3 linked regions of the Homo sapiens genome follow. The protein of the gene in region 2 interacts with the protein of the main gene of each other region in a biochemical or structural test. Each region holds a gene or a part of one and is shown on either strand. Other genes may lie near its edges. The genes, in order: CPSF1, WWOX and LATS1.

Region 1 (3,650 bases), on a different chromosome or scaffold from region 2:
GGCACAGCAAGAGTCAGGGGCCCGCTGGGGGCGCTGGCTGGGACGGGGGCCCTGCTGCCTCAATCTCACCTCAAAGGAGTAGGTGGCCAGCTGTGTTCCCGACTGGGCCTCGCTGCCGTACACTTCAATCTCGTCCACCTCATCCTGCGGCACCGACTTACCCGCAGCTGCACACAGAGAGCCCACTTGAGCGCAGCCCTGGGTCACCTGGCCCCGCTCCTGACCAGCCCTGGACCGGCCCTCACCTGACCAGCCGGCCGTCGCATCCACTCGCTTCTTCTTTGAGGGAGGCTCTTCCTGTGAGGCAGGAGGGGCACTGAGTGGCATGCCACAGCAGTGCCCACATGAAGGGTGGTGGCCCAATGGGCCCAGGAAACCCACCTTGTCGGCAGCCTCACGGACAGCACTGGCCGGGGGCTCCTGCAGCTTCTCCGTGTACTTGAGGAGGAGGGAATTGCCCAGGCGAGAACCCAGGAACAGGTACCCGGGCTCCATGGTGACCATCTGAGGGAGGGCAGGTGTGTGATGGCTGGGCCGGGTCTGGACCCAGACCCAACCCCTAGTCCCAACTCACGCTGGTGGTGAGGACGCTGGCGGCCGCCTTGTCAAAGTGGAACGCTCGGACACTGCGCATGCCGTCGGTGATGAGGGTCAGCACGTAGCTGGGGGCAGGGAGAATTCTGAGTCGGGGATGGGGACCCTGGGGGAGTGAAGGGGGCCAGGGGACCCTACAGGACTTGTGGGGGGCGGTGTGGGCAGAGTTCATGGGCGGGGGAGGGGCTCACATCTCGCCGCCCTTGAGGGAGATGACCATCTTGTCGTAGGAGATGAAGGTGGCCTGGGCGCAGTCCAGGGTGATCCGCACACCCTCCTGGGTGCCTGTGGGGTGGGTGGTCAGGCCGACTAGGCAGGCCCAAGCCGTCCCCGGGCCCCCCCCGCCCCAGCCACCCCACACTCACGAAGCGGGAAAGCCGTGGTTCCTGTGGTGAGGCTGTTGAGAGCCACGCCATACGGGGGGACGCTCTGGTTCAGGTACAACAGCGAGTTGACGGCAAACACCACCACCCCACCTGGAGGTGGACACAGGCTGGTGGGCAGGCTCAGTGCTCTCTCCACACACTCCCCTATCCACTCCCAGGACACACACCTATGGGCTTGGGCACAGCCAGAGCCTGGGTGCAGTCAAAGGGCAGGCTGGTGAGGGACCAGATGACGGGGTGCACCTTCTGCGTGATGTTCAGTGAGATGGCCACAATGGAGCACGTGTCCTGCCGCACGGCCACGCGCCTGGGGACGCCAGTGGGTCAGCCAAGGGCCTTGCCTCCCCGCAGAGACCCAGGCCCAGCTCCTCCCGAGCAAGCCCCACCACACCCCATAGGCCCCGCCCTAAACCCCATGGGCCCCACCCCAGGCAGAGGCAGCTAGGGGGCCCACAGTGCAGAGGGGCCTCCTTAGGGGGCTCACCCAGGCCAGGTCTGGTTGGGCTCAAACAGGATGAGGAGGGTAGGCTCGTAGTAGCCATGCAGGAACTGCAGGTCGATGATGTTGAGCAGCTTCTCGTCTAGGGCCCGCACGTCGATGATGTAGCTGGGCAGGAAGCTGGACCTCTGCCTGGGGGGCCAGGGGCTTCAGCAGGAGAGGAGGGGAGGCGGGGAGGGGAGCTCGGGCTCTGGCGCCTCCCACCCCAGCACCACAGCCTGCCTCAGCTGGCACTCACCCCTCACCCACGAGCCCCTCGTGCTCCTCAGCCAGGCTCTCCCTGCGGAAGGGCAGGACCACCAGCCGCGTGCCGTAGACAAGCATGGCTGCACAGCGCCCGTCGGGGTCCACCCGCACTCGCGGCGTGTGTACATTCTGCACAAACCCGTCCTGGGGGCAGAGGGGGCATCAGCCAGGCCCAGCATAGGAGACCCCGAGGGAAACACTTGGGGCCACAGAACCCAGCTGCAGGGGGAGGGAGGGTGGCTGGGCGGGGCCTGGGCGGGGGCGGGAGCGCGGCCCTACCCGAAGCTCAGGCTCCTCAAAGTAGTGCAGTGACAGGGTCTTCAGGTCATGGGTGCCCGGGTCGTACTCCACCACAGACAGCTGCGGTCAGAGGGCACAGCCGTGGCTGCCGACTGCCGGTCCTGACAGTGTCGCCCCCGGCAACCAACGGCTGTACCCAGGCCCTGGCACCCACTCCCACGCCTTGGCCAGGCCTACCCCACCAAGCCTACCACTCACCTTGGCATCCTTGAAGCTTAGGAGCAGGGCATCCCGCTTGGCTCCTGCCAGCTGCACGCTGGCCATGGACATGACGTTGCCAAAGAAGGAGAAGGAGGCAGCAAGCTCGAGCTTCTCCCGGTGGGCCTTCCCCTCTAGGGGAGACACCAGGGCTCAGGGTCAGGGCCCAGCCATGCCTGGCACCCGCACAGCCCCAGGCCGCCCCACCACACTCACCTGTGCTCCTGTCATTCTTGGTCAGAGCCTGGAGGGGAGAGAAAGACAGGGCAGTGAGGGGCCACATCTGGCAGCTCACCTCATCCGGGGAACGAGAAAAGACCACCAAGCCTGGCCCCTGCCTCCTGGGAGCTCTGCCCAAACCCTCTCTGCAGCAGGGAGAAGGGCTTCTGGAGACAGCTGTGCACAGCCCCCCACAGCGACCCCCATTCACGCTCTCATGCCCACGGCCCAGCCCTGGCACAGGCCCCTCCCCAGGAAGCCCCTACCTCACGGCTCCCTAGCAGCCAGGCCCTGTGCGGCAAGCACTCAGGGTTAGAGTGCACTCTGTGTCTGCACACCCCCAAACCTGCCTGGTTGCACACCTACAGCAGCCCAGCCCCGGCCCCTGGGTCCAAATGTCACAGGGCAGGAAGCCAGAGCCAAGGGGTATCTGTAGCTACTGATCTGCGTGCCTGTTAGAGAAGAGGAAGCCCTGCGCTATCCTGACGCCTCGGGCTCCCCCAGGCTGCCTCTCTATCTCCTCCCTTTTCACTGCCCTCCCAGAATGATAAGAGGCTGTGTGTTCTTTGCTACTAGGTAGCTAGTTTAACTAGCTAGCAGATTTATATGCCATTGCCTCAAGGCAAGGGAAAAGTGGTTTTTGTTTTGTTTTTTTTTGTTTTTTGTTTTTTGTTTTTGAGACGGAGTCTCACTCTGTCACCCAGGCTGAAGTGCAGTGGCGTGATCTTGGCTCACTGCAACCTCTGCCTCCCGGGTTCAAGTGATTCTGCCTCAGCCTCCCAAGTAGCTGGGATTACAGGTGCGTGCCACCATGTCCGGCTAATTTTTGTATTTTTAGTAGAGACAGGGTTTCACCATGTTGGCCAGGCTGGTCTCGAACTCCTGACCTCAGGTGATCCGCCCACCTTAGCCTCCCAAAGTGCTGGGATTACAGGCGTGAGCCACCTCAAGGTCATTTTTCACGATGGACTTGTGCTATGGGGAGGGCATCTTGGAAGCTGGTTAAGAGATACAGAAGAAGCATCCACAAACCAATACCCATCTCACAGCGACAAGGGCAACTCCAGGGCTTCACCCGCAAATTCTACCAAAGGTTTCAGAAGTAATGACACACTTAAAAAAAAAACACACACCCACTCATGTGGGGCTGACGGCACCGCAGGTGGCTCAGGCCACCCCAACAGCCCACAGACAGGTGGGACAGGAAG
Region 2 (3,650 bases):
TAACAGTACTTAATATGATCAACAAAATGTATTCTTCTTAGATTGGGGATCCAGCCATTGTTTTAAATATTACGCCATCAGTTTTGACTTCAATGACAATTATATAAAATTTACTCCAATGCAGAAGTTCAGACAAGTGGATTGAACATATTTGGAGCCCAGGATGAGGTATGAGAGTTGATTTGAAATAAAATCCTTTCAATTCTTAAAAAAAAATTTCCATTTGCTTCTTTACCTTCATAGGCAAGTACAGTAAAAAAATTCTCCACTCGGATGGCAACCTGGTAGATTTCACACCTTGTACAACACAATAATTGACCCTTGAACAATGTATTTTTACCTCCTGTGCCTCCCTAATCATGCTAGAAAATATTTCTGCAGCTTCAAGGAATTGTTCAAAATTAAGAAAGAAGTGCAGATGGTTAATGGGTACAAAAAAGATAGAAAGAAAGAATAAGACCTACTATTTGATAGCACAACAAGTTGATTATAGTTAATAATAACTTAATTGCACATTGTAAAATATCTAAAAGGGTATAACTGAATTGTTTATCACTCAAAGGATAAATTCTTGAGGGGATGGATACCCCATTCTCCATGATGTGACTATTTCACATTGCATCCCTGTATCAAAACATCTCATGAACCCCATAAATATAGACACCTTTATATACCCACAAAAAATAAAAATAAAAACAAAATTAGGAAAGAGAAACAAATGAGTAGAGGAGGGCATCAAGGGGGCCGTGTGAGGGCTGCGGGGGACCAAAAGGACAGAGAGAACTTGACAGAAGACAGCCAAATGCAACGTTTCATATGTCGACAAATCTGAAGATGCATATCTAAACTCAAAGCAGGTGGTTCTCACTGATTCAGATACTTATGTAAATAGATCAAAGCAAAATCAGAATAAAATCCTATGAAGAGTTATGGTTTGCTCCCGCCTTGCTCCTGTCTCCTTAATGGCCCATCATATTGAAGCAAGGATACCCTCTTGAGCCATCTACCCATGATAGTCCCTGTGGGTAAACATTGGCAATTAAGAGGTGAAGACAGGAACTCATTCTCCAATTTTATAGAGAAATAAGATCCTGTGCCCAAAAGAAAATGATATGCTCAGTGACCAGTCGAAACCTGTAGTATCCTTTGTTCCAAAGACATAATACCTTGTTGTTCCCCGTATTCTATTACCAATCAATTTTGGTTTGAATAACCCAGGTAATTGGAATATGCCCATACACCATGCAGACCAGGTCAAAAACTCTTAGACGGAGCCTGTTGTCTCTCATCCCTGAATACCAAAATAGCCACAGTCTTTTGCTGAGTGTTCAGCTTTCAGAGACTTCAAGGTCAGCCCCTACACAGGCTTCCATGACAACATTAGGATTTAAAAAGAGGTAGTGATGTTAATGAAACGATATCTGAAAAGGATAAAAGTCATGTTTAAATCAGAGAACCACTAAACAAAATTCCATTATAGCTAGATCTAAGTGGATCTCATTATAGCAGTCCCAAAGATAAATAACTAAGTGAAGAGCCTACCTATTCCTGAATTAGCTCCAGTGACCACAACCACTTTGCCAGTGAAATCCCGGCCCTGGAGAATTTCCATGGCAGTGGTGCTGCCGTCGTATCTTTGCCGGGTGGTTGGCTTGGTCGGATTATCATCCACAGTAAACGCCAGTCTTGGGTCCAAGTAGGTGGTTCTTTTATTTATATGGCTGCCCAAAAGAGAAAGCAGTGAACCCACAGCAATGAACACAGGCATTTATAAATATAAGACAATCTTATACTTTAGGAAAACCCCATTTTTCATAGACCAAAATGCTTATTCCTTAAACCTGAAAGAACTGGGGCCCACTGAATCTATCTTCTGGCCTCCAGAAGGATCACATTTGTGCCAAAAAAAGATAGTCATCGAATCCTTTCCTTCAGAACTGCCTATAACATACGCTGTAACATACAATAACTATTGCCATGTATCCTTAGATCTCAAAAAAGGCTTCTTGAGAAGGTTTTGGGCTTTTATGTAATTCATGTAAATGTAGCTATAAGATCTGTCAGCCACTCTTTTCAGTAGATTTCAATTAAATCTCTTAGCCCTGTGCAAGGGCCTAAAGACGTAGAGAAGTAGAAAACTCAAAATGATAAAGTCTTAGTTGTAAATAAGAAACCTGCCAACTACCAAAATTCTAACGATTTTCATTTTAAGACTCTGCACTCATACCTCCTACGAGCACTCATTTTGATTTGGAATTGATCTAAATCTTGTAGAAATGGTATTAAAATATACTGGAGGCTGGGCACAGTGGCTCACGCCTGTAATCTCGGCAATTTGGGAGGCCAAGGCAAGAGGACCACTTGAGCCCAGGAGTTCAAGACCAGCCTGGGCAACATAGTTAGACCTCATCTCTACAAACACTAAACAAAATTTCAAGTGTGATAGCACACGCCTGTAGTCGCAGCTACTTGGGAGGCTGAGGTAGGAGGATGATCACGTGAGCCTAAGAGATCAAAGCTGCAGTGAGCCATGATTGTGCCACTGCACTCTAGCCTGGGTGACAGACCAAGACCCTGGGTAACCATTAAAAAAAAAAAAAAAAAAAAGGCACATATGGATGAAAAGAGTACTCCTTATAATAGAATTTACTTTTTATATCTTAAATGTATTCTTGGGATATGAGATAAAGACCTCAGAATATCTTAAAAACTATTAAGAAGCCTCTAAATATAGATGAAATTTCATATTTTAAAAGTATGTGTGTGTAAAATTAGTTTAAAATATATACTCATCTCCCTATAAGTACCAAGACTCAAGAGTAATAATCCAACCTTTATTCTAATTATTACCATCCTCATCCTCATTCTATTTATAACAACCTTAATTTGTGACCCCAATATTATACACACACAACAGAGCAGTTCTATGCTAGACTGGCTCAAACTGGCTTACAAGAGCCAAACGTGACTATCTCTTCCCAATTCCTCACTTCACCTTGGCAGCATGAAATCAGCTATGGCCAAAGTATTTATACTGTGGAAACAAACAGTGGCTTTTTTCCCCCTGAAGACCTGGTGCTAAACATTTACCAGCACCCCACTGCAACAGGCTCAGAAAAGTGAGAACTAGCCAGGGGAGCCAATTTCCAGGTTCCCCCCAAAGCCCTTGCTTACTCCTCTAGATTAGACCAGGAGCTGGCCAAATCTGGCCCACTGCCTGTTTCTGTAAATAAAGTTTTATTGGAACACAACAACGCCCATCACTTGTATATTGTGTATAGCTGCTTTAGCACTACAAAGGCAGAGTTGAATCATTGCAACAGAAACCATATGCCCTGCAAATCCTAAAACATATTATCTAGCCCTTTACAGGCAAAGGAGACAGCCCCTGCTCTAGACGGGAGGCTCTCAAGCTAGGGAACATCAGGATCCCCTGGATGACTATTAGAGCGCAGATTGCAAGCCCCACCCCAGTGCTGATTCAGTAGGTCTGGGGTGGGGGCCTGGGAATGTACATTTTTATTGAATTCCCAGGTGATATTAATGCTGCTGGTCCAGGAACCATGCCTGAGAACTGCTGCTCTTGGTTGATTAATACCCATTTCAGGGAGTAACTTTCCAAGCGTGAATGCAAAGGCAAAGACTGCACA
Region 3 (3,650 bases), on a different chromosome or scaffold from region 2:
AATTGGCTGTGGTATCCAAGAAGGGTGTGTAGGTGCTAAAGCAGTCTGTAGCTCTGGTTTTAATACACGCATACTTTTCACAGGCTGTTGAATAGGAGCTGGTGTAATTGCAGTGACTGTTGTAGCAGAAGGCTGAGAATTAGCAGAGTGACTTGCTCTATTTCCTAATGGGTTATTAAAAGAATTTGACCTCACTGGTATGTTAGGTTGCCATGTAGGGATTTCATGCCCACTGCTCGGGGATGACTGGGCTGGAGCAGAAGATGACTGAGGCCAATTTGTTTGCAGTCCAGGTACACTAATGTTATATAGTTCCATGTTATGACTATTTCTGTTTGGCACCATCATAGACTGAGGAATACTTCCATTTGTATATGACGAAGGAGCAGCAGATCCCCCTGTTTGTAAAGCAGAAGGGCTTTGTCCATTAGCTGCTGTCAGAGGATATGGAGGTGGTGGCTGCCGATTCACAGTGCCAGCAGGGACAACATTTTGGTGTATCATGAAATCAGTTTGTCCAGTACCATTCTGCATTCCAGGTCTCCCTGATGGAAAGTTAAATTTGCTAGAACTCTGCATGATGATTGGTTGTCTGCCAACAGGAACAGAACTAATGCCTCTCTGTCCTTGATTAGGAGGATTCATGGGGGAAGTGTTGAGAGGTGGTGGAGGATAGCCCTCTTGCCATGCCCCAGGTGGGACAGGAGAGATTCGGGAGATTACGTATTCCATGTTTCCAGAATAGCGCTTTGTTTGAGAGTTTGGTTCCCATGAAGGGGGAGGTGGAGTTGTACCTCTTGGAGGGGGAGTCTGGCCTCTTGGAGGTGGTGGAGGAGTAACACTCCTTACTTGAGGTGGTGGTGGGGGGTTCACTCTCTGTCCGTTGCTAGGGTGAGCTTGAACAAATGCTGATATACCAGATCCAGACAAAGGTCTTCCTACATCTGTCTGTGAGTTGGGACTCTCAGAATGATAGGCCACACTTTCTCCTAGTGGCGGGCCATGCCTCTGAGGAACTAAGGATTCTTTAGAACCTTTCCAGCTCTGTTTGCGGTTAACTGATTGCTGCACATTCCCTATGGTTATAAGAGAGATAAAGAGAAAAAAGAATCATGTTTTTAACCTCTAATTTTTGAAAACCTTAGCTTGCAATTCTGATATTACAAATGATACTCAATTCTCTTTCAAGAATTATAAAAATATAAAAAAGTTCAAGTGATCTCTTGTACAAAATGGTGACTGTAGTTAATAACAACGTATTGTACTCCTGAAAATTGCCGAGAGTAAATTTGAAGTATTCTCACTACAAAAAAATGATATGTGAGGTAATAATACATGTTATTTGGCTCAATTTAGCAAAAAAAGAAAAAAAAGAGTTATAAAAATAAAATTTCACTAAGTGGTTTCCTTTTACCTTTTAGAATTTTATTTATTTTTGACCAGGCGTGGTGGCTCACGCCTGTAATCCCAGCACTTTGGGAGGCTGAGGTAGGCAGATCACTTGAGGCCAGGAGTTCGAGACCAGCCTGGCCAACATGGTGAAACTCCATTTCTACTAAAAATACAAAAAAATTAGCCAGGCGTGGTGGTGTGCACCTGTAGTCCCAGCCACTCGGGAGGCTGAGGCAGGAGAATTGCATGAACCAAGAAGGCCAACGCTGCAGTGAACTGAGATCGTGCCACTGCACTCCAGCCTGGGTGACAGTGCAAGACTCCATCTCAAAAAAAATATATATATATTTTTGAAGAGATATAATTTCATATATATGCATGTATATTTGTAGATAAATTATTAGAGGTAGCATTATTAGGCCAAAGGGCGTATCTATTTGTAATTTTCATAGCTCTACTGATTTTAAATATATTTTAATATATATCTATATTTTTAAATTGAGACAAAGTCTCACTCTGTCACCCAGGCTGGAGTGCAGTGGCACAGACTCACTGCAACCTCCGTCTCCCGGGTTCAAGTAATTCTCCTTCCTCAGCCTCCTGAGTAGCTGGGACTACAGGCGCACGCCACCACGCCCAGCTAACTTTTGTATTTTTAGTAGAGACGGGGTTTCGCCATGTTAGCGAGGCTGGTCTTAAACTCCCGACCTCAAGTGATCTGCCCTCCTAAGCCTTCCAAAGTGCTGGGATTACAGGTGTGAGCCACTGCACCTGGCCTTTTAATATGGTTTTTAAAACAGAAAAAGATAGTAGGCTATAATTAGCTGAATATTAAATAAAGTATAGATTTTACAGAAACTGTCTTTAACGGAATTTCCAAATCAATAAAACAAGCAAAAAAAAAAATACAATACCAAAAAAAGAGAAGTATTTAAAATAGAATAGTCCAGCCACTTAGGAAAAATATACAAGATACACTGGTATAAAGACAATACATATATACATTCTAGAAAGACTAAAGGTTTAAATATTAAAGATGAAATCATGTAAGCACTAGAAAAAAACAAAAGACCATTCAATAGTATTGGGGTACCTCTTGCGAATGTCTTCCCAGGCATGACAAAAGTAGAGATCTAAATACAAACACTCATTACCATTAAAAACAAAACAAAAAAGAATACTAATAAATTTGAAAGGTCAACATCATCCTGGGCAAAAATATATCTAACAATACATCTGAGAAAAAAAGTGGTAAAATGTGGTAAATGTTCATAATGTTCAGTTTAACACTCCCTTTCATCTAGGCTGGACAGCATTTTGGGTCTACATTCTCGAAGCAGGAGCCAGACGAAAAGCAAGTGAGTAAATAATGTTTGGGGAACATTATCATTCCGGATAAACTGGACAAGTCCTCTGGCCATCAGGCTCTTTCTCACTTTCCTCAGAGGCCAGCTGAGGCCAAATACACCATGTCACTCATTCAGCTTTTAGAGTATACAGTCACCCCTGTTGTTCTGCGCCTCCCACAGAGCTCTCCATGTTCTTCCACTTCCCGAACCTTTCCACCATGCCCTCCGGATCCACTCGGCTCCACAGCCAGCAAATGTGCCTTATCAGTAACCTCTCCTCCAAGCTTTCCTGCCACCTCCTTGAAGCTGGTTTTCTTCTGCTGATACTACTTTCCTTTCAGCCCTTTGAAATTAAGGTTTCCTTTAAAAATAACCTGGCCTAAAGATGGGGTTCTAACATTTGTTCTTACAGGTTGATATTATTCCTTTTAAAAAGCCAGCTCTTTTGAACTTCATGCTATGTGGGAGGCCACACTAATTCCTCTCACCTAATGAGCTCCTGCCTATTTGCTCTATTTCATTCAGCCACAGCTTCAGCATTCAGTCTACCCTAAGCCCTGCCTTCATCCTGTAACCTCAATAACCACGAGGATAAACCATCTATTGCCCTCATATCTCAGCTTCTTGACGTCCCCTCTTCCACTCCACATCAAGTATCATTCTCATGATTGTATTTCAAACTTTGGTATTACTCATATCTGCTCTTGTTTCAGAATAACTACTTTAAGGTTTATACGCTTATACTCCCAGACCACAACTACTTCTTCTGTTTACTCCTACTGCAAAAGTTTTTAAACTTTATTAAGTAGCAACCTCACCAAGATCTCCAAGATTTTTATTTTTTTTTTTTTGAGACAGAGACTTGCTCTGTCGCCCAGGCTGGAGCGCGGTGGCATGATCTCGGCTCAG

The links.
Region 1: the proteins of WWOX (region 2) and CPSF1 form a complex in vitro, tested with the Homo sapiens proteins (one study listed by BioGRID).
Region 3: the proteins of WWOX (region 2) and LATS1 interact in a test that uses a peptide from one of them, tested with the Homo sapiens proteins (one study listed by BioGRID).

Annotation. Positions count from the first base shown.
Region 1 is NC_000008.11:144,399,207-144,402,856, forward strand, and holds part of CPSF1 (cleavage and polyadenylation specificity factor subunit 1), read right to left. Parts: intron 2,909-3,650; exon of another isoform or gene 2,709-2,908; intron 2,468-2,708; coding exon 2,440-2,467; intron 2,358-2,439; coding exon 2,224-2,357; intron 2,086-2,223; coding exon 2,005-2,085; intron 1,870-2,004; coding exon 1,718-1,869; intron 1,612-1,717; coding exon 1,465-1,611; intron 1,288-1,464; coding exon 1,148-1,287; intron 1,140-1,147; exon of another isoform or gene 1,071-1,139; coding exon 960-1,070; exon of another isoform or gene 880-959; coding exon 786-879; intron 663-785; coding exon 575-662; intron 505-574; coding exon 382-504; intron 298-381; coding exon 246-297; intron 168-245; coding exon 70-167; intron 1-69. UniProt on the Homo sapiens protein: Component of the cleavage and polyadenylation specificity factor (CPSF) complex that plays a key role in pre-mRNA 3'-end formation, recognizing the AAUAAA signal sequence and interacting with poly(A) polymerase and other factors to bring about cleavage and poly(A) addition.
Region 2 is NC_000016.10:78,113,047-78,116,696, reverse strand, and holds part of WWOX (WW domain-containing oxidoreductase), read right to left. Parts: intron 1,722-3,650; coding exon 1,543-1,721; intron 1-1,542. UniProt on the Homo sapiens protein: Putative oxidoreductase. Acts as a tumor suppressor and plays a role in apoptosis. Required for normal bone development. May function synergistically with p53/TP53 to control genotoxic stress-induced cell death.
Region 3 is NC_000006.12:149,683,517-149,687,166, forward strand, and holds part of LATS1 (serine/threonine-protein kinase LATS1), read right to left. Parts: intron 1,077-3,650; coding exon 1-1,076. UniProt on the Homo sapiens protein: Negative regulator of YAP1 in the Hippo signaling pathway that plays a pivotal role in organ size control and tumor suppression by restricting proliferation and promoting apoptosis.